Regions from separate parts of the Homo sapiens genome. Here region 1 is linked to region 2. A link means that fine-mapping ties the variant in region 2 to the expression of a gene that starts in the linked region. Tissue or cell type: whole blood. Region 2 holds a variant in brackets; the other region holds the start of a gene. All regions are shown on one strand. Distances are from middle to middle. Region 1 holds the start of PITPNC1 (phosphatidylinositol transfer protein cytoplasmic 1). Region 2 overlaps PITPNC1 (phosphatidylinositol transfer protein cytoplasmic 1).

Evidence for each region.
Region 1: PITPNC1 starts here. The variant in region 2 is fine-mapped to the expression of PITPNC1 in whole blood (TOPMed, PIP above 0.99).

What each region holds. Positions count from the first base shown.
Region 1 is chr17:67,376,093-67,378,997 of GRCh38, reverse strand. PITPNC1 (phosphatidylinositol transfer protein cytoplasmic 1) reads right to left here and starts at 1,717. Exons shown (of 9, transcript NM_012417.4): 1 at 796-1,717. The coding sequence starts at 843. RefSeq lists silencers at 1-222, 333-632, 643-1,062, 1,413-1,662, 1,713-1,832 and an enhancer at 1,218-1,911.
Region 2 is chr17:67,401,017-67,403,921 of GRCh38, reverse strand. The region is part of intron 1 of PITPNC1 (phosphatidylinositol transfer protein cytoplasmic 1); the gene reads right to left. Among named protein-coding and RNA genes, the nearest start is that of PITPNC1, 25 kb to the right of the region's middle. RefSeq lists a silencer at 1,475-1,769. The variant C/T (reference allele first, on the strand shown) is at 1,800.

The DNA.
Region 1 (2,905 bases), 25 kb after region 2:
GGAGAAGGACAGCAGAGCCGCGCTTGGAGGACGAGCCCCCGCCCCGCGCCCGGCGCCCCCAGCCGGCAGCCGCGGCCCCGGCACCACGTGCTGGAGCGCCCTCCTGTGGCCGCGTCGCAGCCCCCGCCGCTCCCGGCTCGCGCGCCGCTCCCCGCGGCGGAAGAAACAAGAGACGCAGAAAGTTTCCGAGCCAGGCGGTTTGCGAAAGGACACAGCCGGGTCCCGAGCCTCGAAGGGCGGACGTGCCGGGAGCTGCGCCCAAGCCCGCGGCGACGGCGAGAAGTCGGGCCCCGCAGGGACCTCCCCTAAGGGCTCAGAGGTTCCTCCCGCGGGGCTCGGGGCGTGCAGATCCCGAGGGCGCAGGGCTCCTCCTCGCACCCCTACCTGACCGCAGAGGGCGGGGAGGGGAGGCTGGGCCCACGGCCAGGACGGGATGCCCCCCAAACCCCAGCTACAGCGCGCGCCGGGGGCTCTTGGGTTTGGTTTATTCATTTTCTTATTTGGAGGGAGGGGGCGCACCCACTCCCTTTGGCTCATAGTGATCCCCAACAGTCTGGATTCTGGGCGCCCCCGAAAAGCCCACCCGGAGTCCGCCGCCCCACCCAGCGCCGCCCTCCCCCGCTGGGGTGACAAGTGGAAGCCGCAAATCCCCTCCCTCCTCTCCTCCAGGCTTCGGGTTTGCGGGGTAACGTCCACCTGGGTTTCCTGCCGCTCGCCCGGGGCTCGCCGGCCAGGAGGCGGCGGTAGCGGCGGGGGTCCCGGAGCGGGCGAGGCCGGGCCGGGCGCGGCGCTTACCTCGTCTACGGTGAGCGGCATGCAGATCCGGTACTCTTTCAGCAGCATGGTCCTGCCGGCCGCGGACCCCCGGGGCGGGAAGCGGGGGGCGCCCCCAAGACCAGCAAGGCTGCTGCCCAGGCGCAGGGCAGGGCGCCCGGAGCCCGGCGCTCGGAGCCGGAGGGCGAAGCAGCCCCCGCGGCGCGCTCAGCTCCTGGCTTCCTCCTCTCCGCCCCAGAGCATGTCAGGGTTTGGGTCTGGGTGTTCGCAGCTCCCCCGCCTCCTCCCTCGCCGAGGCCGGTCCTCCCGGAACGCGGTGTTGCAAAGTCAGGGAGGCAGGGAGGGAGACCCGCTGGGGACGACTCTGCTCGGCTGCCCAGGGTGGTAGGAGCGGCCGCCAGATCAGGACATGCCCGGCAGCGAGCGAGGGAGGAAAAAAGAGAGATTTCCAAAAATTAAAACGAATGCACAAAAGTCACCCGCTCGATCCGCCTCCGAAAGCAGACGGGAACCTGGCGACCCCCCTCCTCCGGCGGGTCTGCCCGATGCTAATGTCACCAGGAACACATTGCAGCCGGAGCCGGAGATGCTGACTTTCCAGACAAAGGCTCGATCGGCTTCTCTCCGCGGGCGGTAAACAAGATTTCCTGCTCTTTTTAGGGCCGGTCCCCGCGCCGCTCCGGGGCTCGGCTCGGGGAGAAAAGGGAAGCCGCCGCCGCCGCCGCCGCTCGGCTCTGCCCGGCTGGGGCCCCGGGCGCCTCCAACCTCGGCTCGCGGCTGCCAGGGGCGGGCGGGAGGAAGCTGGCGCCTTCCGCGCGCGTCCCCTCCCCCGAGTCCCTCGGCTCCCCGGGCGCCGTGCGTGCCCGCGAGTTTGCAGCCACCTCGCCGGGGCCGGAGCGTCCGCGCCGATGCAGTGTGCCTGGGGCCGGGAGGTGGGTGCGGGAGGAGCGAGCGCGAGCGAGGCTGACATCAGCAGCGGCCGCGGCGGGGAGGGTAGCCCCATCCGGCCAATGGGGAAATGGCAAAGAATGTGGAGGATTTAAACAAAACAGCATGTCTCTGCCAGACGGCGGGGCTGCTCCGGAGCGGAGCCCGGCCGGCGCTGGGGAGGCTCGGGCAGAGGGGCTTTCCTCGGCTCCTTTGCCCTTTGAATCCGCTCTCCATTGTGCCCTGAGTGCTGCCGTGCTCCATCCAGCCCCTCTGGGAAGTTTCTGGTCCCCTGACCCTAGGGACAAGTCACCAATGCCCACCACCTATGTGTGGTCCAGTAAGCAAGTCTGGGGCTGGAGAGGCAATGGGTGGGATTTGGGAACAAACCCTTGCCTGGTTTCAGAGGAGAGATCCTGGAAAACTGGGAAGTGCAGCCGTGTGAATGGAAATGAAGTACAAACGGGGAGGGAACAACCAGAGAGAACATGAACCCCACGTAGCCTGTTACCTCGCCTGGCCCGGCTCTGCAATCTTTCTGCAGATTGTGCAGGCTCCGCGCAGCAGAAAGAAAGAGTAGGTTTTCGTATCCGCACTCCTAAGTTCAAAAAGTCACAGTGAAATGTCAATGAAAATGCCTGGAGTGTTGCTATTTGATCCATATTAAACAGATCTCTCATTTTAACCACAAGAAGCACATTCTTCAGTTACTCAGGAAGCAGCATGGAACTGCTGAAGTCTGTTTTTCATTTGTCTGGTATTTTTCAGCTTGTTTTTATGAAAAGTTGCCGGATGAAAAATGCATCAGTTGCCTGTATGAGAATAACCTGTAAGCGTTATCTTTTCTCCGAAAAATCTTCACGCTCTGAAGTCCTGAAGCTAGAGCTTAGATGGCGATGCAGATGCCTCAATACAGTATTTTGAATTGTGTTTAATTAATAAGTAATTAACCAATATGACGATGATGGGCTTGTGGCAAAAGTCATCCAGAGGGCTGGAGAGAATTTATAACTGTTAACTGATACAAACCCTCCTAGGAAAATGATACCCTATATCCAGCTTATATTTTAGTGGAAACTATTTTCCAGATAAATGCTTTCCAGAGTTGGCTCAGAAATATTCACAGCAACTAATTAAAGCTAAACCAAATTCCTCGAGGTGGAAAATCTAAATCTGACACTGCAGTGTTGAATAATAACACATT
Region 2 (2,905 bases):
GCCTCCCAAGTAGCTGGGATTACAGGCACCTGCCACCACACACGGCTAATTTTCGTATTTTTAGTGGAGACAGGGTTTCAGGATGTTGGCCAGCCTGGTCTCAAACTCCTGACCTCAGGTGATCCACCCACCTCAGCCTCCCAAAATGCTAGGATTACAGCCGTGAGACATAACGCCAGTCCAAGCCCAGGGTTTACACCCAGCTCTGCCATTAATGATGGGGGTAATTTTGTCAAATCCTCTAAGCCTCAATTTCCACGTCTGTTAAATGAAGATAATAGGATCCACCTTGGAGGATAACTGCAAAATTGAAATGAGATGATTAACACATTGGGCCTGGCCCACTAGAATGTTCCATAAATGTTGGCCCTCTGTGTTCTCCCTTCCCCTTAAAGCAAAGCCTTGGTAAATAAATGTCCACACGGACACATATATAATTATGATTAAATGTTTATACACTAAAAAAGTTGGCTTCACCATTTTCTAAATTTTCTCCTCTGCATACAAAATTATAATCTTAAACTGTTTCTCAAAATATCTAACGAGAACCTTATTTTAAAAATCAAAACAAATGAGGAAGTAGGGAATAGTTCATTTTTAGCCTTATGAATATAATTGAGGGTTTCATTTCTACACCCAAATACCTACTGGTTTCTGCAACAAAGGAAAGCAGTCATGACTTTTTTTTTTTTTTTTTTTTTTTGTAGAGATGAGGTCCACTGTGTTGCCCAGGCTAGTCTCCAACTCCTGGACTAAAGCAATCCTCCCGCCTTGGCCCCTTGGGATTACAGGCACAAGCACTTCACCTGGCCAGACCTATGTTTTATGATTTAGATGTTACTGAAAAGTCAGTGACTTAGAGAAAGACACAAAGGCATGCTTATCACATCTGCCACGAAGCTAAGAAGAACGGTTAATACAGATATAACAGAAGCAAGAATCAAAAACGTGGTCAGGCTAGGCGCGGTGGCTCACGCCTGTAATCCCAGCACTTTGGGAGGCCAAGGTGGGCAGATCACTTGAGGTCAGGCGTTCCGGACTAGTCTGGCCAACATGGTGAAACTCTGTCTCTACTAAAAACACAAAAATTAGCCGGGCATGGTGGTGGGCACCTGTAATCCCAGCTACTTGGGAGGCTGAGGCAGGAGAATCACTTGATCCAGGGAGGGGAAGATTGCAGTGAACAGCGATTGCGCCACTGCACTCCAGCCTGGGCGACAAAGCGAGACTCCAACTCAAAAAACAAACAAACAAACAATAAAAACATGTGGTCAAACTTGAAACTAGTGGATGCCATTCATTGCATTTGTTTCAAAGTCCTATGGTTACGGCTGCTGTGGTATGGCTGCTTGTTTTCGGCAGAACACATACCCACAGGTTAGAGAGACAGCTTTGTCAGGAAATGGCGGAGGGGCGGGGGATGGGGGGTGGAGAAGACCAAGTGTAACTGACCACCTTGTCAGAAGCAGCCAGCAGTTTGATGCGGCTTCTGAAAATGACAGTGCTAGTGTTAAAGCTGAAGTTCCAGTGGTTTCAGCACTGGTCCTCCAATATCTAAGATCAGTAAATAACGGCCCATGGGCCAAATGCAGCCCATAGCCTGTTTTTGTACGCCTCTCCAACTACAAATGGGTTTTGCATTTTTAAATGGTTGGAAAAGAAAAAGCAAAAGGCACATAATATTTCGTGGCATGTGAAAATTTTATGAAATTCAAATTTCAGTGTCCACAAATAAAATGTTACTGGAACACAGCCACGCCTATTCATTTACATGTTGCCCTATGCCTGCTTTCATGTTA[C/T]GAGGTCAGAGTTGAGTAGTTGCAACAGAGACCTTACGGCTTGCAAGTCTAAAATATTGCTATCTGGCGGTTTGCAGAAAAAGTTAGTTGACCTCTGCTGTAACGCATTGCGTTCAATATTTTCTAAAGGGCAATAAGAAAGAGGAACCACAGGAATGGTGAGGGAGACAAAAGCATTTCATAAATTCAATCTGAAGGAATTGAGAGTAGCAAGCCAGTGGAAGAGAAGATCAAAGGAGAACAATCTAGATTTCTTTTCTTTTCTTTTTTTTTTTTCTTTGAGGTAGAGTCTCACTCTGTCTTCTAGGCTTGAGTGCAGTGGCGCAATCCCGGCTAACTGCAACCTCCGCCTCCTGGGTTCAAACAATTCTCTGCCTCAGCCTCCTGAGTATCTGGGATTACAGGCGCCCACCACCAGGCCCGGCTAATTTTTGTATTTTTAGTGGAGATGGGGTTTCACCATCTTGGCCAGGCTGGTCTTGAACTCCTGACCTCATGATCCACCTGCCTCGGCCTCCCAAAATGCTGGGATTACAGGCATGAGCCACCGCACCCAGCCAACATTATAGATTTCTTTAAATGTTTAAAGAGTCAGCATGTGGAAAGGGCTTGTGTTTGTCACTATAGTGGTAGAAACGATCCTGAAAGCTCTAAGGAGTCAGATACCAACTAAACATGAGAAAGCATCTTCCAACAAATCAAAGTGGAAAATCATAGAGGTTGTATTACCAAAAAGAGCCCACACCCAAGCGATGGCTGGTATTAAGCCCAAAGGCAAGATGATTGCCATCCAAGATTATCATAGAAAGGACTCTTAAGTGGGTAGGAAGTTTAACTGGTTTAATACTCAGGTTCTTTCCGTGATTTTATCTCAAAAGAAAGAAAACTGGCCAGGCGCGGTGGCTCACGCCTGTAATCCCAGCATTTTGGGAGACCAGGGCGGGCGGATCACTTGAGGTCAGGAGTTTGAGACCAGCCTGGCCAATATGGTGAAACCCCGTCTCTACTAAAAATACAAAAATTAGCTGGGTGTGGTGGTGCATGCTTGTAATCCCAGCTACTCGGGAGGCTGAGGCAGGAGAATTGCCTGAACCCGGGAGGTGGAG